Linked DNA regions of Homo sapiens. The protein of the gene in region 1 interacts with the protein of each later gene in a biochemical or structural test. Each region holds a gene or a part of one and is shown on either strand. Other genes may lie near its edges.

What was found.
Region 2: the proteins of BATF3 (region 1) and NFATC2IP form a complex in vitro, tested with the Homo sapiens proteins (one study listed by BioGRID).

The regions. Positions count from the first base shown.
Region 1 is NC_000001.11:212,684,548-212,701,509, reverse strand, and holds BATF3 (basic leucine zipper transcriptional factor ATF-like 3), read left to right. Parts: upstream 1-1,669; 5' UTR 1,670-1,747; coding exon 1,748-1,837; intron 1,838-4,444; coding exon 4,445-4,549; intron 4,550-9,142; exon of another isoform or gene 9,143-9,246; intron 9,247-13,088; exon of another isoform or gene 13,089-13,383; intron 13,384-13,610; exon of another isoform or gene 13,611-13,640; intron 13,641-14,530; coding exon 14,531-14,719; 3' UTR 14,720-15,093; downstream 15,094-16,962. UniProt on the Homo sapiens protein: AP-1 family transcription factor that controls the differentiation of CD8(+) thymic conventional dendritic cells in the immune system.
Region 2 is NC_000016.10:28,950,810-28,962,607, forward strand, and holds the start of NFATC2IP (NFATC2-interacting protein), read left to right. Parts: upstream 1-127; 5' UTR 128-202; coding exon 203-589; intron 590-1,322; coding exon 1,323-1,395; intron 1,396-2,092; exon of another isoform or gene 2,093-3,755; coding exon 3,756-3,873; exon of another isoform or gene 3,874-4,189; intron 4,190-5,168; coding exon 5,169-5,249; intron 5,250-5,341; coding exon 5,342-5,528; intron 5,529-7,773; exon of another isoform or gene 7,774-7,852; intron 7,853-7,907; coding exon 7,908-8,052; intron 8,053-8,181; coding exon 8,182-8,291; intron 8,292-11,798. UniProt on the Homo sapiens protein: In T-helper 2 (Th2) cells, regulates the magnitude of NFAT-driven transcription of a specific subset of cytokine genes, including IL3, IL4, IL5 and IL13, but not IL2.

The DNA.
Region 1 (16,962 bases):
ACCCAGATGTTTTCCTAGCTCGTTAGAGCCCTTTTAGTGCTTCAGGAATGAGAGCTTTCAGCTGACCTAGTGCAATACATATACTGAGCACCTGTTGAGTGTATGTAGCGTGCTATGCTAGGCACCTTGTGTGGGTACCTTGTGGGATGCAAAATAGTCCTGGGGCAACCACCAGTTAAGCTGAGTGATGAAATAACGGAGAGGAAAAGATTAATCCGGGCAGATAACCCAGCGTAGCGCTGGCTCTGCTGCGCAGCCTTGCTGCTGTGGAGTGTGGCGCTGCAACTCTAAAGGGCTGCGTCCACCCTCCGTCTTCCTCCCCGCCTCTCAGTTGGCCGAAGCTTCTGATCACACAGACAAGAATCTCCGCTCGCTTTCCCGCTGGCCTCCAGGCAGCCAAGTTCACTCAAGCTCTCTCAAAGCTTTTGCAAGAGTGGGTCTTAAATCCTGGCGGGGGGCACGTGCACTCATTTAAGACTTAAAAAGGAATCGGAAATGACTGTCCCCATGCCCACTGCTGCCCACAAACCTGAAGACCCAAGCGACCACACTTGGTAGGCACTTCTGCCCTTCTGGTCTGGTTCCCACCCGCCCATCCCGAATCGCGGTTATCTTTCCCGGTGCTCACAGCATGCAGACCACAGCCTGTGGCCGCTAGTGTTTCCTTCGCTAGGACCACGGGTAATTGTCTTGGCTTCGCATCTTTTGACTGGCAGGCAGGTGGACAGGGACTTGCCCTACCTCAACCCGGTCCCCAGCTTGGCACGAGCAGATAAATCTTGAAAAAGAAAAATGATCTGGGCCGTTTAACCGTGGCATGGCGGGTCCAGATCCCCAAACCTGTCACTAGTGACGTCCCACGTGGCAGATTCGCTCTCAGGGAAGCCCGTCACCGTTTTTGTCCGGGACATCCTCCCCATGCCCACCCTCCGCTCCGGGAATTCACCCTCGGGGCCGCCCCGCCTCGTTCCCTCCCACAGCCCGGCGGACCCGAGACGGGAAGGGCAGGCACTCCCTGCAGAGTCCCTGGGGCGCCCGTGGCTCGGGGTGCGCGGTGGGACTCGGTGAAGCCGGCGTCTTCACCCCAGAGCCGCGGCTTCGGGGCCGCTGGAGGAGCGAGAGTGGCGCCCGGATGACTGATCGCCGCGGAGAAAGTCCCCCGGGACTGTGACCCCCGCGCCGGGGGGCGGACGCAGGGCGTGGCTGAGGCGCAGGAAGATGCCGCGATGGGACCGGGAAAAAACACCGACCCCAAAACACCCACTGTGTTTCTCAACCTGAGTTCCCCGGCAGCCGCCGAAGGACCCCAAAGGCTGCATGGCGCCCCCCTGGTCCCCACCCCCCCGGGCGTCGCCTCGCGTGGGTGGGCTTCGCGTTCCCTCCGGGGTTTCAGAGCCACCACGTGACTTCCACGAAGCGCGGGGCGCCGGCGGAAAGCCGCGGCAGGGGTGGGATTTGGGACCCCGAGGTGCGGAGAGAGGGCGGGCAGAGGAGGAAACGAGGCGGGGGTGGGAGAAGGAGGGCGGGGCAGACGTGGGACGGGAAGGACGGCTGCCGGGACTGGCGCGCGGGGACACTGGGCCGACGCGTGGAGTAGCGGGGAGAGCGGGAAGCCTGAGGGGGCGGGGCCGGCGCGAGGCCGTGGGTGCGGCACGAGGATGCCGGCGGCGGGACAGCGCCCGTAGGCAGCCCCACGGGCAGGGCGCGCGGGCGGGGCGGGGCGGGCCGGGCCAGAGGAGCGCCCGGCATGTCGCAAGGGCTCCCGGCCGCCGGCAGCGTCCTGCAGAGGAGCGTCGCGGCGCCCGGGAACCAGCCGCAGCCGCAGCCGCAGCAGCAGGTAGAGGGCGAGAGGCTCAGGGAGGGCCGTGGGGTGCGGGGACCGGCGCGCCGCGGGGGGCGAGGAGGTGGGTGCTGGAGTTCCGTGGTGGTGACTGCGGAGGTGCAGAGGTGGCGGGTGCGGCCGGAGACAAGCAGAGGTAGGGGCGTAGGGATGTTGGGGAATGGGGGCGATCCAGGGACCCTGTCGTGCGCACAGTGTCCGCGGCTCCTGGAATGGCTCCTGAGCCAGCTCCTGCGCCCTCTGGGGGAAGAAGCCCGAGGGCGCCGACGCCTGGCTGGGCCGGGCATGGCCGGTGCTCCCCGGCACGTGGGCTCCGCACTGCCCTGAGGGCCGCCCCATCCTGGCGCAGCCAGCGACTGCCACCCCACCACCCGCGCCTGTAGCCCCTCCAGGATTCCCCCGGGTGGGGGGGGTGCTGCCGCGGGAATGGAGAACGCCGGACTAGTCAGCCTGGGCGGAGGGAACCCACAAAGGGCCGACTCCGCCCCCAGCTGGTGGAAACCCTTTGCCCCTTCCCAGTTCGCTGTCCCCTAGCAACGTTTACAGCGGCGCAGTCAGGAAGGAGACCAGGTTGGCCACAGGGACGGCCGTCTGGAAACTTTGCCTGGGTCTTGGCCACCTGCCTTACGACGAAGACTGGGTCTTTTCATCCTTACTCCCCACCTTCCCAATTCAGCGCCCGGCCCATGTCATCAGGTGTCGCTGGAGTGTCACAGAGATCTGAGTTTGGGCCTGGGCTTTGCCACACACAGGCTGAGCAGCCTTGAGCAATTTGTTTAACCTCTCGGACCGTCCATTTCCCCATCTGTAAAATGAATATAGTAACATCAACCTCTCAGGATTTTTGAGACTGAATCAGATATGGTTAATAACATAATACTATCTCTAACTTTCGCTCACCTCTTTCTGTCTTGATTAAATGTTTCTGCTGGGTTGGCAGGTGTGATCATGGTGATGAGTCCAGTTTAGAGTCAGCTCCCCGAGGGCAGTATGCAGGCTGCTTTCTTGTGCTAGTGACTTTTTGATTACAGAGAGCAAAGAGGCATGAGAAGCACTATGCAGAATACATTTTTTTTTAAAGTAGCAACTTCAACAAAGGCAGGTAACTTCTTGAGGGCATACTGTATGCTGGGAGCTTTAGGACAAAATCTCATTTCATCGCATCCCAATCCTAAGCATTAGGCTGTTAGCACCAAGTCTGCAGAGTTCACTGACCCTTTGTTTAGGGCTTGTATCCCCAGTGTCTAGAACAGTGTCTGGCACATGGTAGGTGCTCAGTTAATACATATTGAAAGAATGAATGAATTATGCTTACAATAAATGAGAAAACTGAAAATTTAGAGAATTTAAACCATTTACACAAGACCATGTTGACACTAAGAGACAAAACTAGGATCTGTGTGATTCTAAAGCTAAAGAGCTGTCTTCTAACCACATGTTCCCCTGTAATGTTCTGGTTTTGTTTATCAAGACTTCTTTGCCTCTCTAGAAGACTGTATTATCATACTTTGTTCCCTTAAGCTTCTATTTGCTATGTATGTTATTTATTCCTCTCCTTTTTATGCCTTTATATTCTTGCATATCTGAAACTTCTTACCTGCAGTAACTTGGGAAGATGTGTGTCTTATGTGGAATACAAGATGAGATCAAATGATAACTGAAAATATCCTTTTTTGTGTTATTAATATTTGCATTCCGTGAATATTAATAACTGAGTAGTTTTCCTTGTTTGTACCTCTTGGCTCTTAAACTCTGTAAGTGTGGTATTTTTCCCGCTTGGTGGTGTCTTCTCATGGGGTTCTAGAAAGCAAATACTGCTCTCCTTTTTCATGTTTTCTATAGCTGATTGAAGTGTTTTTACCATGGTCAGTGCATTTTTCCGCCTGCCTGTTTCATGATCACTATTGAGGGATTTGACTGAATTTGGTTAAATCTTACATATAGCTAACAGCTTTCAAGACACATAAAAAATTTGCTGACTTCTGAAACAAAATGTCAGCCAAGCATTGTTCAAATGAGTACACTGTCAGTGGGGTTTAAGATCATTTGGTGTGTTGGTAGAGTTATGTGGCTGCAATTAGTTGTAAGTGTAATCATGATTTGCATGCAGTATCAAAAGTACCTTTCATGTGTGGTGGTATAAGGACTGGCAAACAGCAAGTTCCAGATAGCAGATCTCTCCACCGCCCCCCACCCCCACCCAGCTTTCCAGTCTCAGATGGACGACATTGACACCACAGCTCTTCCAGGCACACGCCCTGTGGGCTAGAGGTTTATGAACGTTGATTTGGAGACCAACAGACCTGAGTTCCACTTCCCACTCACCCACTTAGTGGCTGTAATACCTGGAGCAAGGTCCTTAACCTCTCTGAGTTTCTTATTCCTCATCTTTTAAACGGCGGTCACACCACACACTTCACACACTCACATGGTGAGTGCTCCTGGGCAAGGGGCTGTTGTGAGCCCATTGGTATAGCAACTAGTGGTGCTGTCTACTGCAAAGCAAATGATGAAGCTCAGTGAACAACGCTGAGTGATGAGACAGGGCAGAAAAGGGTAAGGCGAGGGGCCACGACATCACACCCACCCAGTGTTTTTCCCCAGAGCCCTGAGGATGATGACAGGAAGGTCCGAAGGAGAGAAAAAAACCGAGTTGCTGCTCAGAGAAGTCGGAAGAAGCAGACCCAGAAGGCTGACAAGCTCCATGAGGTGAGACCGTGGTAGGGGCAAGCCACCTTAGAGCCACACAGCCTCTGCCTTGCACGGGAGTGGGGGTGATGACTGTTCTCTTTATCACGATTTCAGCAACACTCATATCTAATTTCTGCCAGGTCCTTCCAGCCCAGTGTTCTCACTGTTTGCTCACGGACGTGTTCATTTCTCCCTCATCCACTGAGTGCTTCTCATGGTCAAGTTTATTTCATTATAAAACAAAACAGAGCCTCTTCTGGACCCTGATTCCCTTTCAAGTTCTTGCTCCATTTCTTTTCTTCCCTCACGTCCTTACTTCCTGTTTTGTTTTGTTTCCCTCCAAAGTAATCCGCTAACATCTTTGCTTCTTAAAAAAGAGTAGTTACACCTGTTGTCTCTGTGTCCCTGGTTCCTGGTTATTCCCCAATCCTCTGTGATTTAATTTCTGCTACCCCCTTTCCACTCAACACACATATATATACACACAAACAAACACACACATTCACACATGTACCCAATGTGTGTGTGTACACACACACACACACACACACACACCCTACAGAAACTGCTCCCATTGCAGCCATCAGTGCCCTGGCACTGCCCTATCCAGGACTCTCTTTCTGGTCTCATCATCCTTTACCTTGTTAGAACATTCGACACTTTGGACCCATCTCTTCTTAAAGCTTTCCCCTCTTTTGCTTCTAAAAGACCACATTTCCTAGTTTTCCTAACCCTCTTCGCCGATTTTTTTCTCTATTTCTTTGTTAGCCTTCGACCCTTTATTGGCTTAAATGTTGGTGGTGACCAGTGTTTCAAACTCTGCCCTTTTTTTTTTTTCTCACCCTGGAAGACTTAATCTATTAATCTGTTCTCCCAGCATCAGCTCCCAACATTGATTACTCCAGGCAGGCCCTCTGTCCTGGACCCTAGACCCCATAGCTTCAGTGTCTGCTGAGCTGTTTCTCCATGGGTCCACTGCAGGCTCCTGTGATGTACCACATCCATAAAAGAGTGTTATTGTCCGTTTACCCTGAGACTTTCTCTTCTCATTGTCTTCAAACTGCAGTTAATGGAGCGAACCATCTTTCTCATCACTCAAATCAGAAGCCTAGGATTTATCCTAAGCCATTCCTTTTCCCTCCGCCCTCATGCATACACCTGCATAATCCTGCAGTTGGGACGTGGAGCTGCTCCATACCAGGAACTGGCCTTGAAAGCATCCAAGGATCTATCTGAGGAATGGGCCACCATTCCATGTTCTTGTCTTTGTCGGGGTTGGTGTGTGTAATTAAAGATTTTAGTTTAGCTCTCTCCTGCTATACTTTCTTGTCTTTTTGAGACGGGATCTTGCTCTGTTGCCCAGGCTGGAGTGTGATGGCATGATCATGGCTCGCTGCAGCCTCCACCTCCCAGGCTCAAGCAATCTTCCCACCTCATCCCCTCAGCCCTTATTTTTGTAGGTTTTTTTTTTTTTTTTTTTTTTTTTTTGAGACAGAGTCTCTGTTTGCCCAGGCTGGAGTGCAGTGGCATGATCTCAGCTCACTGCAACCTCTGCCTCCTGGGTTCTAGCGATTCTCCTGCCTTAGCCTCCCGAGTAGCTGGAACTACAGGCGCCCGCCACTACACCCACCTAATTTTTCGTATTTTTAGTAGAGATGGGGTTTCACCATGTTGGCCAGGCTGGTCTCGAACTCCTCACCTCGTGATTCACCCGCCTCGGCCTCCCAAGTGTTGGGATTACAGGTGTGAGCCACTGCGCCTGGCCATTTTTGTAGTTTTGTAGAGGTGGGGTTTTGCCACGTTGCCCAGAGTAGTTTCAATCTCCTGGACTCAAGCGATCCACCTGCCTTGGCCCTGCAAAGTGTTGGAATTACAGGCATGAGGCATTGTGCCAGGTCTCCTGCCATGCTCGTCTCAGCAAGGCCATTCTGGGGCATTGGCAACATGGAAACTCTGAGGTGTGTTGGGGAGAGGAGAGGAAAAGGGCAATCTTAAAACTCTAACAATGAACAGAGAACAAATTTAGAATGTACATACTCCACAGAGAGGTGACCTTCCGATATAAATTCACAGTGTGGCATAAATCATAAATGTCAGATTCTTTCCTAGAAGTAAGAAGGCTGGGCCCTAGAAAGAGACTGAGGTCTCTAGACTAGTGTCACAGAAGGTGCCTCCTAGCCTTTGTTCTGAAGAATTTCCACAGAAGAACGGCAATGCCCTTTGCCTCCTTTCTTTCTTCCCCCTTGCTCCTGAAGCAATTGTGGTTCTAGTGTCATGTTACCAAAATAGCCCCCAGAGGGGACCTGTGGCTCCCAGTTAGTGCATGGCCCTGTATTCAGACCACATGTGCTGCTGGATGGCCAAGGCATTACTCCTGAAGAAGCTCCTAGTCCCAGCCAGGTACATTAATATTTTTAAAAACTAGTTTTAAAAACATCAGTTGTAAATCTGGACTGAATACGTATCTGGAGGACAATATCTTGGACAAGATCTTTCATGGAGCACAGTCGAGTAGATCCATTTCACAAATACCAAGGCATTGCCATTGGGTCACAAAGAGAGGAGGAAGATCTCATGCCTTGCCTGTCGGTGGGAAGCCTAGAATTTCCCAAGGAAAGGATGTTAATTTCCTACTGCTGCTGAAACAAACTCTCACACATTTGGTGGCTTAAAACAACACAAATTTACTATCTTCCAGCTTTGGCAGTCACACATCAGAAGTGGGTCATATTGGGTCAAAATGAAGATGGCAGCAGGGCTGCCTTCCTTCTGGAGGTTCTGGAGAAGATTCGTTTTCTTGCTTTTCCCAGCTTCCAGAGGCTTCAGTGTTCCTGGGCTTGTAGTCTCCTTGAGCCAGCAATGGCCGGTTGCGTTTTTCTCAGGCTGCGTTACTCTGGTGCTGTTTCCGTTGTCACATCTTCTCTGACTCCCCGACACCCTCTTTCACTTACAAGGACCCTTATGATTGCGTTGGGTCTGCCTGGATAATCCAGGATAGTCTCCCCATCTCACGCTTCTTAATCACATCCGCATAGTCCCTTTTGCTATGTAAGGTGACATAGTCGCAGGTTCAAGAGATTAGAATGTAAACTTCTGTGAGGAGTGAATCGATTATGCTGCCTAGCACAGAAGGTAAATGTAAATACTCACGGAATTTTACTACAATATCAAAAAAGTACCTGTATGAAGCGTTGGCTCTCTCGCACTTTCTGTCACTGCTGCATTTGATAACTGAGTGAACCAGGTGCCTGGGAACTTCAGAGTGGTGCCACCTTTACCCCTATCTGACCTCTCTTGGAACTGTGGGGTGGAGACCTCTTCTGTAGGGTCCCTGGCCTGCTCTCCAACCCAGAGACTGTGTTGCATGACAGTCATGCCAGCTGCCCTTTTCAGAAATGGGGTGGGTTGATCTGAAGCCCAGACACTCCACGGAAGAGCACCCCCTTCTCCTCTCTCTCTGTGGGGCTGAAGGAATGGGTCAGGATTACTCTCCACTGGCAGATCACCTCAGCAAGACCAGCTTTATTGAGAATCACAGGGTCAAAGAGGCCAGGACAGCGGCTCCACCTGTATACAGACCCCAGAGCTGTAGCCCTCACCTTAGCCTCACTAGCTCCACACAAGTGTCGTTGGTCACAAGCGGGTGAGGAAGCAGACGACTGGCTTAGGAAAATGGAAGTATATCCCAAACCTTCTGCAGAACCAAAGGAACATCATCTCTGAACCAAATCATTACTCACCACGTGAGTAATCCCTTCCCTGTTCCTTCCAGGAGGGCATTGTAGCTGTGTGTATCATTGGATGACTAAATCTACTATTGGAGGCAAGGTATCTGGTTTAAAAATGGTGTAAAGAACCCTTTTGTCAAGCTCCAGTGAGTTGAGCACAGAGCGCCTTGCACACTACTGCGGGCCATGACAGAAAGCCCCTTGGGACCCCTGGACCTCCCAGGCCAATCTAGGGTGGGGACACCATGCATAGGAACCTCCTCCTCAAATCTGGAGTGAGGCCAGCTCATTGGGAGACACCAGAGGGCCCAGAAAACAGCCACTGACAGCCACTGCCTGCTGCTCCCTGGAGACTGTAGCGCATCAAAGGGCTTTCTTCATGTGTTCCTCTATCCCACACTGCAGGGATTGCATTCCTGAATATCTCAAAGTAACTCAAGCTCTTTACTTGCATTTCTTGCATATCCTGAGGGGGGATATTTGGAGCAAACTTGTTTAAAGTTTCCACTTTTTGGTCAGGCACAGTGGCTCGTGCCTGTAATCCCAGCACTTTGGGAGGCTGAGGCGGGTGGATCACTTGAGGCCAGGAGTTCAAGACCAGCCTGGCCAACATGGCGAAACCCCATCTCCACTAAAAATACAAAAATTAGCCAGGTGTGGTGGCGTGCGCCTGTAGTTCCAACTACTCGGGAGGCTGAGGCAGGAGAATTGCTTGAACCTGGGAGGTGGAGGTTGCAGTGAGCCGAGATCACGCCACTGCACTCCAGCCTGGGCAACAAGAGTTTCCACTTTTCTCTCCTCACCTCACTCACATACTCTACCTATACTTGAGCCTCTGGTTTTTTTGGGTTTTTTTTGCTCTTTCGTCTTCCTGGGTTTTTAAAAAAATATGGAACACTTTATGAATTTGCATATTATCCTTGCTCAGGGGCCATGTTAATCCCTGTATCATTCCAATTTTAATGTATGTGCTGCTGAAGTGAGTACTTGAGCCTCTGTTGCCTCCAACACCCTGAGAAACTTGCCCCAGCTGCAGCTCTTAGGAGTTTTTCGGCCACCTCCCTCCCCTCCTTGTTCTCCATCTCCAAAGTCCTAGGAGTGTCCGTCAAGGCGAGCCCTCTGTGGAGGGGAGAATGGGGGAAGAGGCTGCACAGGCCAAGCCAGAGAGGCAGGGGCTGGGGTTCCCCTTCACGCAGAGTTTTCTGGGCAGTGGTTGCTGGCAGTTGGACTACGGTGATGAGAAGCAGTTCTTAACGTGTGTCTGTAGACCTCAGAGTCCACTGTGGGCTTTCAAATCATCCCTTCAACCCGCTCACACCTCCCGTGGGGATTTCGACCTGCATTCATCTCTGAACACTAGGCGTGTGCCAAAGTCCACACTGACAAATGAGAACCAAAGTGAACAGTCAGGGTCTCGTCTCATCTCACCCAGGCTGAAAGGTGGCTCAGAAGTGGGTCAGACTGGCTCGACCAGGCACCCCAAAGGTGTAAGACTGAGAAAGAATTTTGAGTCACAAAAGGAAAGCAGCAGTGCCATCCTCAGGAGCCCCAAATGTCACAAACTGACAAATGACTTGGGCAATGTGATTGTGGTATGTGTTGCCATGGTTTTTTCAGATATTGCATGTTCTGAGAGCTTCATGGCAGCACCCATGTGGCTTAGAAACTGATTGTGGCACTCATTTGTACAGCCCTTGCTGGTAACACAATTTTTCTGCTGGGAAGTGCATCAGTGAAGGCTTGGGAGTAGACTTATTCTGAAGTCCTGAGATCTTATGGCCTCTTACTTCTGGTAACCATCATGGGGAAATCTGGACCCAGGCACTGCTAACTAAAAGCAGAATTGTTGATGCTACAAGAGAGTTGCAGTTGACCTTGAAGTTAGGAGTCAGATCCCAGGTCTATGTGACCTTGGAAAAGTCACTGTACCTCTCAGAGCTTCAGTTTTCTAACTTGTGAAATGGGGTCTGTGTGTGGCTATGGCCTCCTGTTAGCCTGTTCCTACTTCTTTCTTTCTCACCTTAGTTGTCATATCTGGTCCCTGGTACCCACTTCTTTACCAGTCCTTGATCCTGTCTTCAGCCTCAGAGGCATCCTGGACCCTGCGTATCCCTAGGCAGCCCGTTGATCCCAGTCACCTGCTCCTAGATGCCCAGAACAGGGTTTCTCAGCCTCAACACTGTTTATGCATGGGGCAGCATAATTCCTTGTTGTTGGGGGCCTGTCTTGTGTGCTGCTGGATGTTGAGCAGCATCCCTGGCCTCTAGCCACATGATGTAGTAGCACCCCCGACCAGCTGCGATAACCCAAACTGTCTCCATACACTGCCAGTGTCCCCTGCAGACTGCCACAATTGCCCTACTTGAGATCCACTGCCTTAGGCAGCTTAATTTCTGAGGCAGAGCTGGGATCCACAGTGATTTCACCACCTCTAATTTTTAGGTGTCTGCTTTGAAACTGTCCCGACAAATACCCAGAGAGGGAGCACAGCAACCTCAAACCCTCCCATGGCAAAGGATTTGGAACTTGGCAGAATTCGAGCTAGAGGGGTCATATTTTTGGAAATAATGAAGGGTTTAATGTTCTTTGCTTGCTTTTTGTTTGCGTTTACTCCAGGAATTTCTTCTGGGTGTGAGGTGGGTTTCATTTCTTCCCCCTTTGCTGCTATTCAGTGTTCTCTGGCCTCTTCTTTCTTCCCTCCCAGCTCCTCTTGTTATTTTCAAAGGGCTCGTCTCACCTAAAGATTTTGACTTCTTCTCTTCTTGTTATTCCCTCAGCTCAATAAAAGTCCCTCAGCGGGTTTATGAGTAATGCTTAAATCCTAGAAGAGAAAGTCCTTATGGAGAAGGCAGATGAGGGGCCCGTGGGGCACCTGTCGGGCGGCTCTGAAGACTCTAAGCATGGGTTGGGGGAGGGCAGTGGACCTCAGGGAAGCCTCAGGCCACAGGGCTGCGCACGGCTTCCAGAGACAAAACTGGGAAGCTCAGAGCGTCTTGCTGCGGAATTCAGTATATGTAGAAAGGCAGCTTGGAATATTCTACCAAAGGAAGAGGGCTTCTTGTCCTTTGGAATCTACTTAAAATGTTAGCACATTGGAACTATTCAAATGTACTCTCCATTTTACTTGAAAGTCAAGGGCATTTCCTGCTGCAGGGTGGAGTGTGTGTGTGTGAGTGTGTATGTGAATGTGAATGTGGGGAGTCTGCATGTGAGTCTGAGTTTTTGTGAGTGTGTGTGACTGTGTGAGGTGTATGTATGTGTGTATGACTGTATGTGTGTGACTGTGAGAGTGTTTGTGTGACTGTGTGTTGATTGTGTATGTGTGTGAGAGTGTCTGTGGCTGGGTATGAGAGTGTGTTTGCAGATGTGTGTGTGACTGTGTGTATCTGTGTGTGTGTCTGTGGTTGTGTATGAGTGTGTGTGTGTGAGAGTGTGTGTGTCGGGCTGTGTATGAGAGTGTGTGAGTGTGTTTGCGGACGTGTGTGAGTGTGTGTATATGTGTATGTGTGTAAGAGTGTGTGAATGTGTATGAGAGTGTGTGAGTGTGTGTTTGCAGACGTGTGTGTGTGCTGCAGCTTTTCTCATCCCTCTGCTGCCTGCATGATTCCCTTGACGCCCTGGCTTCCATCCCATCCTCCCATCCAGACTCTCCCCTTGCCCACGGAGAGCTTATGGCTGGATTTGTAGACAGAATTCTCACTCCAGAACTAGAGCTTGTCAGAGGTCAAAGGAGGGCATGAAGGCTTGGGAGTGGGAGGCAGGGAGGAGGATAGAGGCAGAATGGGGCCAGTGTACTGGTGAAGCCACATGGCCCCAGAACAGCTTGCTGCCCTGGAGAGTGCTCCAGACCACCCTGGGAACCTGCCTGGGGAATGGCTCAGATAGACCCTACAGGCAGCCCCGCCAGACCCCTTGGTTCTTAAAGGGAGGAAGATGCTGAGAGTCCCTTCTGAAAGGAAAGGATGGGGTTAAAGAAGAAACAGAGGATGAGGGCTGAGGAATCACTGAGCATGTAGGTGCTGGTGCTGTGGCGCATCAGGCAGGGGGTAGAGGAGAGGAGTAGCAGAAGTTCCTAGGTCCTTTACATTTCTGATCTTTGGGGGGAGACATTACTTCATATGAGTGAAATTGAATATGATACAAAATAGAATAGAACACATAATAAAAGATGTGGTTCCTGTAGGTGCTGTGGTCAGGGAAGCCTTCCTGGAGGTGGTGGGCTTGAGCTGGACCCATGCAGAAAAGGAGGAAGGCAGTCCAGTTGAGGATAACTGCAAGAGCAAAGGGGCAGGGTTGAGAATTTGCATGTGTCTTTGGGGGCTATAAGATCACATTTCTTTAGTGATACTCCCTTAAAATTACTAGTCAGAGAGAAAGTGTGATGAGTAACGCAATTGGGCCCTGAGCTTGGGAAATGCATGGTGTGCATGGTACAACAAAGCCTTACTATAAACTAGAAATGAACGAAAACATTTCAGCAAGATTTAAATGAGATTGCCAGCCTAGAGAGGGTCTCTATTGGCATGCCGTAGAGCTCTGCCATTGGCTATTTTTTGTAGAACTTATTAATGACTTGGATGAAGAAAAGGAAGACCTGTGTGTTAAGTTAGTGGATGGCTTAAAGCTGTGTGCTGTCACCATTCATGAGACGATGCAATTGAGATTCCAAAAGATTTTGCAATTTTGCTGGTCTGGAAGATGTCCAAATAAGGAATGAAATTCAGTGGAGATGGATGTAAAATCCTACCCTTAAGCCCCATAGCATCCATCATCATCCAAGGACGGACGGAGAAGCAGCACATGCAGATAAAGCTTGCATTTCTCTGCAGGCTCAGAGAGAATCCTCAGCGGCTTGGGCCCAGCACAGGAGAGGTCACTGCCACACATTTGCCCTTGGCATGGTCTCCAGAACCATGCATTGCATCCTGGGAGCAACATTTTCTGAGATATTCTGGTAAATTGGAGTGTGTGTTGGTGAGGGTCCCCAGAATGGCAAAGAAGAGCCTGATGCAAGGAACTCAGAGGACCTGAGATGCTGTATCCTAACATTTCAAGAACTGCGATATTGAAAAAAGCATTGGATCTACTAGATGTGGTTCTATTAAATGGAACCAAACCCAACAGGTACATTTGAAAGTGAGAGTGTTTGGATCAGTACAAAGAAGAGCTTTTTCTTTTTTTTTTTCTTTTCTCTCTTTCTCTTTCTCTCTCCTTCCTTCCTTCCTTCCTTCCTTCCTTCCTTCCTTCCTTCCTTTCTTTCTTTCTTTCTTTCTTTCTTTCTTTTTTTTTCTTTCTCTCTTTCTTCTTCCTCTTTTTGTTTTTTTGAGTTGGGATCTTTCTCTGTTACCCAGGCTGGAGTGCAGTGCTGTAATCATGGCTTATTGCAGCCTCGAAATCCTGGGCTCAAGCAATCCTCCTGGCAGAGCCTCTTGAGTACCTGAGACTATAGGTGTGCATCACCACACCTGGCTAGTTAAAACAAATTTTTTTAGAGATGGGGTCCCACTGTGTTGCCCAGGCTGGTCTCAAACTCCTGGCCTTAAGTGATCCTCCCACCTTGACCTCCCAAAGTGCTGAGATTACAGGCATGAGTCACCATGCCCAACAAAGAGGATTTGTCTAGTAGAGCAGCCCAGAAATGACAGTCTGTCCATTGAGGGCAGGAGTGCCCAGAACAAGTTGGATATGGATGGTTTCTACATTGTGTGGATTGGGCTAAGGGACCTCTCTGATACCCTGCAGTTCTACGCCTCTGTAAACCCTGATGGAGAGGAAACTGAACAGGTGAGTGCTGGAGCAAAGCCAAGGCAAGGGATGTTTTCATTCATTTGTTAGTGCAATCAACAAACATTTGTTATGTTCCAGGTACTGTTCTAGGTGCTGGGGATATAGCTGTGAACCCAATAGAGATCTTCGGAAAGCACATCAGCATTTGGGGGGACTAACTGCACAGGGGCATGGGGAACTTTTTGGAGTGATTGAAATGTTCCGTGTATTGATCAACACAGGTGTATACATTTGTCAAAACTCACTGGATCATACTTAAAATAGATACATTTTATTTTACGTAAGTTATACCTCAATAAATTGTTTCTCCCAGTGGGAGGGGGGAGACACTCATCAAATAGACAAATATCTGAATATCTGAGCAGTGGAGGGGACATGCGTAATGAGACAGCTTTCATGGGCAAGAGGTGAACAGCGCGGCACAGGAGGACGGAGGAAGGGAACGCTGCACCAGAAATGATTTTGCCCATTCTGTCTCCCCCAGGAATATGAGAGCCTGGAGCAAGAAAACACCATGCTGCGGAGAGAGATCGGGAAGCTGACAGAGGAGCTGAAGCACCTGACAGAGGCACTGAAGGAGCACGAGAAGATGTGCCCGCTGCTGCTCTGCCCTATGAACTTTGTGCCAGTGCCTCCCCGGCCGGACCCTGTGGCCGGCTGCTTGCCCCGATGAAGCCGGGGACACTCCTCTGCCCAGCAAGGAGCCTTGGTCATTTTCATACCTGGGAGGAAGGCTTTTCCTTCACAATTGTATACAGGGGGCACCTGTGGCCAGGCCTCCTCCTGGGAGCTCCAGGACCAGCCAGCTGTGTTCCCTGCAGACTGGGCTCAGCCCGACATCCAACAGGCGCCAAACTCACAGAGCCCTTGTGCAGATCCAGCATGGAGGCCACCCTCAGGAGTGACTTCTCATCCACCCTGGCAGCTAGTAGGTTCTGCTGTTATGCAGAGCCATTTCCTCTAGAATTTGGATAATAAAGATGCTTATTGTCTCTCCCTTCTCCAGTTCTGGGAATTTACAGGCACAATACACTTCCTTTTCCTGGAGAGGTCGTCTTCTGTCTTCTCTGGGTGTTCTGTGGCTCATGGGTCTTGCCTCCCTGCCTGGCCACTCTCCCACAGCCACATCCACAGCAGACAGGGGAGGTGGCTTTAGGGGGCTGTGGTGGAGCATAAGCCAATGGGACTTCCTTGCCACTTCTAGGCCTTCAGAAGTCTTTGACCCAGCTGGGTCACAAAGTTGCATGCTGGGTGTGACCCGTGTGTTTGTCATGCTCTGCACAGCCTTCCATCTTGGCCAACTCTCACACTCATGCTGGACTGGCGTGGGAGATTTTCTATTCCAGGTTGGTTTTCTCAACTGCACTGTCCACTCTGAGGCCACCTTCTTGTTCTATAAGTAGGTGTAGGATAGGGGAGAAACTTTGTATTAGTCTGAGTCACAATTGAGTGGAGAAATTTGTCTCCTTATTTAAACAAATATTCGGGTAGATGAGAAGAGGAGCAATTTCTTTTCAAAAAGCCCTGTCTGCCCGACTCTCGTCTTTTGGGAAAAACAGAACCAAGCCAGGAAGAAGCTGGCCCCAGCAAGGAAAACCAATTGGGAAGACACTCCCCATCCTCCAATTCTCTTTTTCCCTGGAAGAGAGGTGGTTCTGGAGGGTGGAGCCATTCCATCATAAAGGGAACAAGAAATGGGAACAGAAAGGAAAGTGCTTGGCTGTAAATGTAGATGGTTAAAGAAGTAAAAAAACAAGAAAGAAATAGAAGGCAGCCCCTCCCAGGGGTGAAGGACTTGCTGACTCTTGGCTACTCCTCTCAACACCCCCTTTCCTAGGGAGAGTTCCCCTTCCTACTGGAGGCCTGCCTGGTCTCTAACACTCACGGGCTGAAGGCTGCAAACTTGCCCTTGTCAGACGTGTTGGAAGGCTGCTGTTAGAGAACAGGACTCATACCTGCTGGGAGTTCAGGGGCAGAAAGCATGATGCAAGGTTTTAGAACAAGAGACATTAAAATCATCCATTCTGACCCCTCCACTTTGCAGAGAAGGGGCTCAGATGCAGCGAGGGGGAGAGACTTGCTCAAGGTCCCCTGTGGGTGAGCAGCAGAACCAGGCTAAGACCTCAGGTGGTCTCCCACCTGATCCTCTATGAATTGAATCAGGCTGATGTAACAAGGAGGTACTCTGGGTGCGGCTCAGGTAGTGTCTAAATGTGGCCTGTCCTTCCATCTGCACGGTTCAGATGAGCACCCTGTCTGTAATGGTAGGCTTAGAGCCAGGATCCCAGGGGTCTCTGCAGTGGTGAGTAGGAACATACAAAGTGTGTGCCTGGCACGTGCAGGAGTTTTACTGCTGCTGACTTTCAACTCCAGGAATTTGTGGCCCTGCAGGAGTCTCAGCCTGATCCTGCAGAACTTCCAAGTTCTCCCGGCTTGTGGACCTGGACTCTGGCTGACCCGACTTCCAAAATCCAGCTGTCCTGACTGTCCGCTGACCTGCTCCGACCCTTGCGGTTGTTGCTGTTCTACTGCCTGCTCCCCTACTCCACTGCTAACTCAGGGTGTCCAGGCCTGCTGGCCCCGTTGGCCTGCTTATCCTTAAGCCCTATTCAGCCTGACCTCAGGTGTGATCCCCTGGCTCCACATCATAATCCTCGTTAGTCCCCTAGCTTCCATTTGCTGTGCGCCCTCAAGGCCTTGCCATCCCCCAGCCCCTCTATTCTGGCCGGGAGGCTGGGGAGGAGAGGGTCCATGGGGGATGAGGCAAAGGACTATGTCCTGGAGGTGACGGTGTATCACTTCCCCACAGTTCAATGGCCAGAACTCGGTCACCTGGCCCCATCCAGCTACAAGGGAGGTCAGGAAATGAAATTTAGCCAAGGGCTCAGTGGGAGGAAGAATTGGGTTTGGTGAATA
Region 2 (11,798 bases), on another chromosome or scaffold:
AATCTTTGGCGCCTTGGTTTCAGAGGTGGGCGCATGATGAGCGGGTACAGAGACCAATGAAAAGGCGGGAAGGCGGATCCCGCGCGTGGGGCGCGAAGAGTTGCTGACGAGCAGGCTGTTTGTCCAATGCAAGGCGAAAGTCGCTGAAGGGGGCGGGGCGAGGCGAGAGGAGGCGGGCGTGTGTTGTGGAGGAAAGTGTGCCATGGCGGAGCCTGTGGGGAAGCGGGGCCGCTGGTCCGGAGGTAGCGGTGCCGGCCGAGGGGGTCGGGGCGGCTGGGGCGGTCGGGGCCGGCGTCCTCGGGCCCAGCGGTCTCCATCCCGGGGCACGCTGGACGTAGTGTCTGTGGACTTGGTCACCGACAGCGATGAGGAAATTCTGGAGGTCGCCACCGCTCGCGGTGCCGCGGACGAGGTTGAGGTGGAGCCCCCGGAGCCCCCGGGGCCGGTCGCGTCCCGGGATAACAGCAACAGTGACAGCGAAGGGGAGGACAGGCGGCCCGCAGGACCCCCGCGGGAGCCGGTCAGGCGGCGGCGGCGGCTGGTGCTGGATCCGGGGGAGGCGCCGCTGGTTCCGGTGTACTCGGGGAAGGTGCGCCCGGTCCCGGGGAGGGGACCGGCGGAAGGGCCAAGGGCTTGGCCTCCAGGGAGGGGCCGGCGTTCGGGGAGGGTAGGGCTATAGGGGTGTTGAGGCTGGCGTTCTGGGGCTGGTCCTCGGGCGTTAGGGTGTTGGAGGCAGGGAGAGGCAGGGCTCCGGGACTTTCTGCAGACTGGGGTGGTGAAGGAGGGTGGGATGCGTTGGAAGTTTAGGATTCCTAGGAGCTAGAGTCTTGGGGGCACAGGGAGGCTGAAGAGCTGGGATTCCTGAGATTTTGGAGAGGGACTGGGAGGACCTGGGGCCGTTGGATTTTGAGGTTGGGGTCCATGGCAAATGAAGCCAGGGAGCTGCAGTATTGGGGGTTGGGGTCCATGCGGGTTCAGAGAGGACTGGGCGGCTCCAGAGGCTGGGGTCCCCCGATGGTCGTGTGAGCAATGGGCTGAGAGTCCCTAAGAGTCAGGGGTAGAGGGGCGGCTAGTAACCTAGTTAAAAAGGGCAAGGAAGCATACATTTCAGAGTGTCTTAGGCAGATGGAGGAAAGGGTGAAGGGTACTTCCATTCTGAATCCTGGGGAAGCTGGACTTCTAGGTTGCCAGGAGAGGGCCAAGGTGTCCACGATCTTAGGGAGGATTTGGGAGCTGGGTGTCAGGGAAGAATTACCCCCAATTTTTTCTTTCGGTAGGGGAAGGACTTGGGCCTGACCCCTCTCCCTTCTTTGTCTTTGCAGGTTAAAAGCAGCCTTCGCCTTATCCCAGATGATCTATCCCTCCTGAAACTCTACCCTCCAGGGGATGAGGAAGGTAAGGGAGGGCCTCCAGGGAGAGGCACGCAGCCGCTGGCTTCTCTTAAGAGAATTCCTGGGGTTTATATTCCTGCAGTCAGTTGTCTCCTGAGGCTCAAGGGAAGAGCGTGGGAGAGGGGACTCCTGCATCCCAGCCACAGGAGCTGGATTGTTAACAAGCATAGAATGTATTAATGTATACATTTCTGGTGCCACCTGAAGAGATGCTGATTCTGTAGTCCTGGGCGGGGCAGGAGGCGGTAAGGTGTTGAGAATCTGTGACATCTTGTTACATCTGCAGCAAGTTCTTTGGGAACACTGGAGCCAGCAGGGTGTTCTCTGAATCTTATCAGGGATGCCCTGTCTTTGTCCTCCCCCACTGATGCATTTTTTGCAAACAACTCAAGGGCGGGGAATAGGAATCTAGTCTAATAAGGAAATAATCCAGTGGGCAAATGGAGACCTTGGACCAAGACTCTTGTACCATGAGGGAGTACAGTGGGGTGATTAAAAGCAAACAGGAGCCATCTGGCCTGGGTTTGAATCTCAGTTCTCTCTTTTTTTTTTTTTTTTTTAGACAGAGTTTCGCTTTTGTTGCCCAAGCTGGAGTGCAATGGCACGATCTCGGCTCGCTGCAACCTCCACCTCCTGGGTTCAAGCGATTCTCCTGCCTCAGCCTTCCCAGTAGCTGACTAATTCCCACCACGCCTGGCTAATTTTTTGTATTTTTAATAGAGATGGGGTTTCACCATGTTGGCCTGGCTGGTCTTGAACTCCTGACCTCAGGTGATCCGCCCATCTTAGCTTCCCAAATTGCTGGGATTACAGGCGTGAGCCACTGTGCCCGGCCTCAGCTCTATCTCTTAATAGCTGTGTGATCTTAGGCGAGTTTCTTTTTTCTTGTTTTGAGACAGAGTCTCACTCTGTCACCCAGGGTGGAGTGTAGTGGCGCAATCTTAGCTCACTGCAACCTCCATCTCCCAGGTTGAAGCCATTCTCCTGCCTCAGCCTCCCGAGTAGCAGGGATTACAGGCGCCCGCCACCATGTCTGGCTTTTTTGTATTTTTAGTAGAGATGGGGTTTCATCATGTTGGCCAGGCTGATCTCGAACTCCTGACCTTAGGTGATCTGTCTGCCTTGGTCACCCAAAGTGCTGGGATTACAGGCGTGAGCCACCACGCCCAGCCTGGGCAAGTTTCTTAATTTCTCAGTGCTTCAATTTCCTCATTATCAAAGTGGGGATAATAGTAGACCCCATTTTGGTGCTGATTTTGGTGAGAATTAACGAAAGGGAATATAGAGAGAGCTGCCTCTTGGCTAGATATATGCTTTAGGACAGTACCTAGGACACAGAAGTGCTACGTAAAAGGTACCTCTATCCCTGATACTCAAAACGTGGGCCCAGCCATATATGGCATCCGTTGGAAGCTTGCTAGAAATGCAGGATCGGCTGGGCACAATGGCTCAAAGTGCTGTAATCCCAGCACTTTGGGAGGCTGAGATGGGAGGATTGCTTGAGCCCAGGAGTTCGAGACCAGCCTGCGCAACATGATGAGACCCTGTTTCTACAGAAAAATAAAAAATTAACCAGGCATGGTGATGTGTACTTGTAGTCCTAGCTACTCAGGAGGCTGAGGTGGGAGAAACACCTGAGCCCAGGAAGTCGAGGCTGCAGTGAGCCATGATCATGCCACTGCACTCCAACCTGGGTGACACAGTAGGACCTGGTCTCAAAAAAAAAAAAAGAAAAACGAAATGCAGAATCATAGGCCTCTTGCAGCTGCCATAGTTAGTTAGGACAGGATTTCATGACTTCAGCATTACTGGCATTTTTTGGACTGGAAAATTCTTTGGTGTTGGAAACTGTCCTGTGCATTGTAGAAAGTTTAGCGGCATCCTGACTTCCATCCCTGGGAAGTATTATACCTCAGCCCCCTCGCCCTCCACATTTTGATAACCAATATTGTCTCTAAACATTGCTATATGTCCCCGCAGAGGCAAAATTGTCCCTGGTTCAGAGCCACTGATCTAGGGTTTCTTATCATTTTTTAATTTTCACAGTATTTATTTTTGTGGTTTGTGATGATCTTTTATTGACAGCGGGCAAATAGAAATTTCTATATTATAGAAAATAATACCTGGTTTCCTTTCATGAGAAATTTAAGTTAATTTTAAGTTAATATGAGCTATCTTTATACTAAATAGCAGTCTCATCCCCTGCCCCCTTTCCCAATATTATCATGTGGCCCTGTGTGTGCCAGGGGCTCCGTGGTCTCCTCCTTTCCTAGGACCTTCTTGAAGCCTCTGACTTGTTTCTTCTTGGCCTTCGCTGGCCTCCCTTGGATAACCCCCTTCTACCTTCTCTTCCTCTGCCCCCAGAGGCAGAGCTGGCAGATTCGAGTGGTCTCTACCATGAGGGCTCCCCATCACCAGGCTCTCCCTGGAAGACAAAGCTGAGGACTAAGGATAAAGAAGAGAAGAAAAAGACAGAGTTTCTGTGAGTGAGGCCAGGGCCCTTGGGCCCTGGGAGCAGGAAGTGAGTTGGAGGGGTAAGCGGAGGCAGGCAGGACTCTTGGGTGACTCCTGAAAGGTTAAGAAGAAGGGATAGAAGGACTGTTGAGTTTCATGTGGGGAATGAATCGCTTGGGGAAAAGAGGTGGCTTACCCCGGAGGGTGACAGTGAACCCTTCAGGATCACCCTTGGGAGTGGATTCTGAGACCCTAGTAATGTGAGCTTAAGGTATGGTTCCAATCCAGCTTCCCTGTCCTCTCTGTGCTTCTCTTTCTTCATCTATAAAACCCCGTTTTATAGCCTGGGAAACATAGAGAGACCCTGTCTCTACAAAAAATAAAAAAAAATTAGCCTGGCATGGTGGCGCATGCCTGTGATCCCAGCTGCTCGGGAGGCTGAGATGGGAAAATCGCTTGATCCCAGGAGTTAGAGGCTGCAGTGAGCCATGATCGTGCCACTATACTCCAGCCTGGGTGACAGAGTGAGACCCTGTCTCTAAAAAGCAAACAAACAGACAGACAAAAAATACCCCCAAACCTGGGGATAATAGTGGCATTTGTGTCAATGAATTGCTGAGTCAATCAAGAGTTAACACTTGGCTAGGCACAATGGCTCTTGCCTGTAATCCCAGCACTTTGGGACGCCAAGGGGAGTGAATCACTTGAGCCCAGGAGTTCAAGACCAGCCTGGGCAACACTGGACATATGGTAAGTGCTTGCCGTCTGTCGGATATTATTGGACATTTTCCTGGGAAGTGACAGTCTCAAAAATGAGGCATTTTCTTCCCTAATATTCAGGTCATGTAAATATAAAAATGATGCCTCAGGCTTTCCCTCTCCCCTACCCCTGCCTTCCAGTGAAATGGGGGTTATTGGAAGCTGCTTCCTCTTTATTTTTTAAATGTATTTTTACATTTTTAGAGATAGGGCCTCACTCCATTGCCCAGGCTGGAGTGCAGTGGCGTGATCATAGCTTACTGCAGCCTCAAATTCCTGGGTTCAAGCGACCCTCCCACCTCAGCCTCCTGAGTAGCTGGGACTACAGCTGTGTTCTACTATGCCTGGCTAATTATGTAGAAATAGGGTCTCCCCATCTTGCCCAGCCTGGTCTTGGACTCCTGGGCTCGAGCGATCCTCCTGGCTCAGCCTCCAAAAGTGCTGGGATTACAGGTGTGAGCCATTGCGTCCGACTATGCTTGATTGTCCAAGGATCTGATTTCTAGGATTTGTGGGGCCAGTCTCTCTCCATTGCCTCCGTCCTGCTGTCTCTTGCTTCTACAGGGATCTGGACAACTCTCCTCTGTCCCCACCTTCACCAAGGACCAAAAGCAGAACGCATACTCGGGCACTCAAGAAGTTAAGGTGCCAAGTGCAGGGGCTCTGGCTGGGATGGAAGAGGGCAATCCGGGAGGGTGGCTGACTCCAGTTGACCCAGAGTCCTGTCTGCACTGCAGTGAGGTGAACAAGCGCCTCCAGGATCTCCGTTCCTGTCTGAGCCCCAAGCCACCTCAGGGTCAAGAGCAACAGGGCCAAGAGGATGAAGTGGTCTTGGTGGAAGGGCCCACCCTCCCAGAGACCCCCCGACTCTTCCCACTCAAAATCCGTTGCCGGGCTGACCTGGTCAGATTGCCCCTCAGGATGGTGAGTGCCTGAGGCCCATGGGAGAAGGACCCAGGAGCTGCTTCTGGAGAGATGGTGGTGTCCAGCAGGGGTGTCCTGGCAGAAGGGACTGTCATCCTTTTCCCATCCTGCTCTCTAGAGCTGCCCATCATTCTTTTCAGTCTGTCCTGCCTTCACACTTTTTGTTTCCTCTGTCTGCATTTTCCCAACGCTCCCCTCTCTTTCTGGCAAACTTTCTACCCATTCTTCAAGGCTCCTCATAAGCATCCTGTGTCTTTTTTTTTCCTTCAAAAAGTGGTCTTACTGTGTCCAGGCTGGTTCCGAACTCCTGGGCTCAAGTGATCGTCCCTCATTGACCTCCCAAAGTGCTGGGATTCCAGGTGTGAAGCATCCTGTCTTCTAAGAAGCTTTTTTTGGTAGTCTCTCTTGCCTTCCTCCCTAGGAACCTGGGCTTCCCTCCTGGGCTTGCTCTCACTGCCCTGGACACAGCAGATGTCACTCAGTCACCCTGAACTCCACCAGCTTCCTGGCGAAGCCTGATATTTTTGTAGGGATGACCCTGTTTCAACACCAGGAATGATAACAGACATTACCATTACTGATGCACAGTGCATCAGTCAAGCAACTAAGGCAGAGGCTGCAAACTGGCAGCCCATGGCTTTTCCAACAGTGTGTCTGCTTTCTTTGTAGACTTATTTTATTTTATTTTATTATTTTTTATTATTTTTATTTTTTGAGACGGGGTCTCACTCTGTCGCCTAGGCTGGAGTGCAGTGGCACGATCTCTGCTCACTGAAACCTCCGCCTCCCAGGTTCAGGCGATTCTCCCACCTCAGCCTCCCGAGTAGCTTGGACTACAGGTGCCCGCCACCATGCCCGACTAATTTATGTATTTTTAGTGGAGGCAGGGCTTCACCATATTGGCCAGGCTGGTCTTGAACTCCTGATCTCAAGTGTTCCCCTGTCTCAGCTTCCCAAAGTGTTGGGATTACAGGCATGAGCCACCGTGCCTGGCCTATTTTATTTTTTAAACATAGAGATGGGGGCCAGGCATGGTGGCTCATTCCTGTAATCCCAGCACTTTGGGAGGCCAAGGTGAGAGGATCACTTGAGGCCAGGAGTTCGAGACCAGCCTGGGCAAAATAGTGAGACCTTGTCTCTACTAAAAATAAAAAAATTAACCAGGCATGGTGGCACATACCTGTAGTCCCAGCGACTTGGGAGGCTGATGCAAGAGGATCTTCTGAGTCCAGGAGTTGGGGGCTGCAGTCAGCTGTGATCATGCCACTGCACTGCAGCCTGGGTGAGAGAGCAAGACCTTGTCTCTTAAAAAAAAAAAAAAATGGAGATGGGATCTTGCTTTGTTGCTCAGGCTGATCTTGAACTCCTGACCTCAAGCAAACCTCCCGCCTCGGCCTCTCAAAATGCTGGGATTATAGGTGTGAGCCATCATGCCTGACCAAGTGCTTTAAAAATATACGAGTTTGTTGTCACCTTTGTGATGGGTGATTTCATACAAAGGTCCAGATTTCTGGCCGGGTGCAGTGCCTCACGCCTGTAATCCCAGCACTTTTGGGAGGTGAAGGCAGGCAGATCACCTGAGGTCAGGAGTTCGAGACCAGCCTAGCCAACATGGTGAAACCCCATCTCTACTAAAAATACAAAAATTAGCTGGGCATGGTGCCACTGCCTTCCAGCCTGGATGAAAGAGCGAGACTCTGCCTCAGATCTCACCTGAGATCAGGAGTTCAAGACCAGCCTGGCCAATATGGTGAAGCCCGCCTCTACTAAAAATAGAAAGAAAAAAAAAAGGTCCAGATTTCTGGCTTCTCTTAAAAAATAAGAAGATGTGGCCAGGTGCGGTGGCTCACACCTGTTATCCCTGTAGTTTGGGAGGCCGAGGCAGGTGGATCACCCGAATTCAAGAGTTCAAGACCAGCCTGGTAGGAGAATCACTTGAACCTGGGAGGCGGAGGTTGCAGTGAGCTGAGATTGCGCCACTACACTCCATCCTGGTTAACAAGAGCGAAACTCCGTCTCAAAAAAAAAAAAAAGAAAAATATAGGAAGATGTCATACTGGCCCACGTTCCCACACAGTGCCAATCAGCTGGAGCTGCGTAACAGCCAGCCTGTCTAGGTGGCATGTGAATTCCAGTTTGCTGCAATCCCCACCACCCCTTTCTTTGTTCTAACCCATGGCTGCTATATTTCTTTGTGTTACTCGCCTGTACCCCTTGCTGACACGATTTTATTCTATACCTTGCCAGGTAAATATGATGAAACTCACAGCTGAGGAGCTTAGCAAGTAGCTAAGGCCAGAGCTTGTGTTTGGGTGGTGTGGCTGGGGGCATGGATTTCAAGGCAGGAAGACCTCTTTTGCTTGTTGTCCCCATCCCTAGTCGGAGCCCCTGCAGAGTGTGGTGGACCACATGGCCACCCACCTTGGGGTGTCCCCAAGCAGGATCCTTTTGCTTTTTGGAGAGACAGAGCTATCACCTACTGCCACTCCCAGGACCCTAAAGCTCGGAGTGGCTGACATCATTGGTGAGAGGAAGGCAGGGAGGTGGGGCCTTGAGGCATTTGCCAGGGGAAGGGGATATGGGGAGAGGTTCAGCACGGGCCCTGCTTCCAAGCCCCCACTTAGCCCTGGCTTCCTGATTCTGCCTCCCACAGACTGTGTGGTACTAACAAGTTCTCCAGAGGCCACAGAGACGTCCCAACAGCTCCAGCTCCGGGTGCAGGGAAAGGAGAAACACCAGACACTGGAAGTCTCACTGTCTCGAGTGAGTGGGAGAGATGGCTCTCCACGCCCCTCACCCTGTCCTCTGCTGCCTCTTGTCTCTCTTGTCAGTTAATGGAGGATGGATTCCCCTAATCTTGACTTGCAGGAGACACTGCCCTCCATGTTCTTGGGTTCCCAGCCATCCTAGGTAGTGGGAAAACCCATCGTTCAACTTCCCTCCCCGCTTCTACTGGTACCCTCTGCCCTAGTCTGGGTGCTCCCTCGGTCTCCTGACTCCTTCTGATTAAAACAGAAAGGACCCTTAGACGGTAATCAATAAAACCCATCAAAATAACAATGAAGGCCACACGGCTAAGTGCTAGTCCCCGTGCTGAGGATAATTTCCTCACATTCAGGATCTTATTTAATTTCACAACAATCTGATGTGGGCCACAAAGCACTGTTGTTATCCTCATTTGGCAATAAGAAGATTGAGTTCTAGAGAGGTGGAATAAGCAACTTGGTGCAGTCATTTTTTTTTTTTTTTTTTTTTTGAGATAGAGTCTCGCCCTGTCGCCCAGGCTGAAGTCTGGCATGATCTTGGCTCACTGCAGCCTCTGCCTTCCGAGTTTCAAGTGATTCTCTTTCCTCAGCCTCCCGTGTAGCTGGGATTACAGGTGCACGTGCTGGGCTAATTTTTGCATTTTTAGTAGAGACAGGGTTTCACCATGTTGGCCAGGCTGGTCTCAAACTCCTGACCTCAAGTGAGCCACCCACCTTGGCCTCCCAAAGTGTTGGGATTACAGGTGTGAGCCACCGCGCCTGGCCTGCTGCATTCATTTCTTAAGTCTACTGTTAACGAAATACACAAATTGGGTGGCTTAAAACAATAGAAACCTATTCCTGTACACTTCTGGAGCCTAGAAGTCTGAATTGAAGGTGTTGGCAGGGCCTGGTTCCGTCTGAGAATCTGAGTGGAAACCTTCCTTACCTCTTTCTAGCTTCTGCTGGTGGCCAGAGTTCCTTGGCTTGCAGCTGTGTCACTCCAGTCTCTCCCTCTGTGATCACACGGTGTTCTCCATGTGTCTCTGTCTGTGTTCGTCTCTCTTCTTGGAAAGACATAGGTCATGTTGGGCTAGCCCCACTCTAACCAAGCACAACCTCATCTCAACTTGATTATATCTGCAAAGTCCCTACTTTAAATAAGGTTACATTCACATTTACTAGGGGTTAGGACCACAAAGTGCCTTTTCAGGGGAATACAGTTCAACCCTTAACACACTGTTCTCTAGCCCCCACCAAATTCATGGCCTTCCCATCTGCAAAATATATACATCCCATTCCAATATCCCTACAAGTCTTAACCCATCCCAGCATCAACTCTTAAGCCCAAAATCTCATTTAAATATAATCAACTCAAGAAGTCCCAATCTTATTTTCTAAATCATTAAATCAGTTTTGGATGAGACTTGGTATGGTCCATTCTGGGACAAAATTCCTCTCTCTCTCTCTCTGCGGACCCGTGAAATCTAGAAAATAAGTTATTTGCTTCTAAAATACAGTGATGGGACAGACATAGGATAGACATTCCCATTTCAAAAGTGAGAAATTGGGCCAGGTGCAGTGGCTCACACCTGTAACCCCAGCACCTGTAATCCTAGCTCCCCAGGCGGCTGAGGCAGGAGGATTGCTTGAGCCTGGGAGATCAAGGTTGTAGTGAGCCATGATTGCGCCACCTTTATTGGAAACTTTTATTCCAGTTACCAATAACACATTCCTCATTTCCTCCAGAGACCTCACCAGAAACACCTTTAATATTCATATTTCTAGCAGCCTTCTGTTCATAACAATATATGCATCCTGTTAAGATGATAGGAGATTTCTCTGCACCTCTCCTCTTTGTGAGCCTGCAGGGACATTCCCTTTAATGTCCATATTTCTACCAGCAGTCTCTTCAAGGCAGTCTAGGTTTTTCCTAACATACACCTCAAAATTCTTGCAGCTTTGGCCAGGCACAGTGCCTCACATCTGTAATCCTAACACTTTGAGAGGCCAACATGGACAGATTGCTTGAGCTCAGGAGTTCAAGACCAGCCCGGGCAACATAGTGAAACCCTGCCTCTACAAAAAATACAAAAATTAGCCCAGCATGCTGGCGCAGGCCTATAGTTCCAGCTACCCAGGAGGCTGAGGTGTGAGGATCGCTTGTGCCTAGGAGATTGAGGCTGCAGTGAGCTGAGATTGGGCCACTGCACTCCAGCCTGGGAGACAGCAAGACCCTATCTGAAAAAAAAAAAAAAAAAAAAAAAAAAAAATTATTCCAGCCCTGATCCAATTTCAAAGCCACTGTTACATTTAACCATTTATTCCAGCAGCACCCCACTTTTGTATTTTGGCTGTTGTAACAAAGTACCACAAGTTGGGTGGCTTAAAACAACATAAATTTATTCTCTCATTGTTCTGGAGGGTAGAAGTCTGAAATCAAGGTGTTAGCAGAGCAAGTGTCTCTGAAGATATGGGGGAAGAAAACAAACTCAGGATTTTTTTCTTTTCTTTTGAAAAAAACAAAAAAGAGACAGGGCCAGACGTGGTGGCTCACGCCTGTAATCCCAGCACTTTGGGAGGCTGAGGTGGGCGGATCACGAGGTCAGGAGTTCAAGACCAGTCTGATCAACATGGTGAAACCCTGTCTCTACTAAAAATACAAAAAATTAGCCGGGCATGGTGGCATGCGCCTATAGTCCCAGCTACTCAGGAGGCTGAGGCAGAAGAATCGCTTGAACCTGGGAGGCGGAGGTTGCAGTGAGCCAAGATCAAGCCACTGCACTCCAGCCTGGGCGACAGAGCTAGACTTCGTCTCAAAAAAAAAAAAAAAAAAAAAAAAGACAGGGTCTTGCTCTGTTGCCCAGGCTGGAGTGCAGTGGTGCGATCTTGGCTTACCACAGCCTCAAACTCCTGGGCTCAAGCGATCCTTCTACCTCAGCCTCCTGAGTAGTTGGGACTACAGGTGTGTGCCACTACCCTTGGCTAATTTTTTAATTTTTTTTGTGTAGACGGGGTCTCACTATGTTGCCCAGGCTGGACTCAAACTCCTGGGCTCAACTGATCCTCCCACCTCTGCCTCCCAGAGTGTTGGGATTACAGGCATGAGCCACTGCACCTCGCCCCCTCCTTGGGTTTAATTTGCTAGAGCAGCTTACAGAACTCAGGGAGACACTTACTTTCATTTACTGGTTTATTATAAAGGATGTTACAAAGGATACAGATGAAGAGATGTGTAGGGCACAGCATGGGAAAAGGGCGCAGAGCTTCCATAGCTTCCCTGGGCACCATTCTCCAGGAATCACCACATGTTCAACTATTGGGAAGTTCTCCAAACCCTGTCCTCTGGATTTTTATGGAAGCTTTGTTATATAGGCATGACTGATTAAACCATGGGCTATTGGTGGTGACTCAACCTTCACTCTCTCCCTCCTTCTTGGAGGTTGAGGGGTGGGGAAAAAGTCCCAACTGTCTTATCCTACCTTGGTCTTTCTAGTGACCAGCACCATTCCTGAAGCTCTCTAGG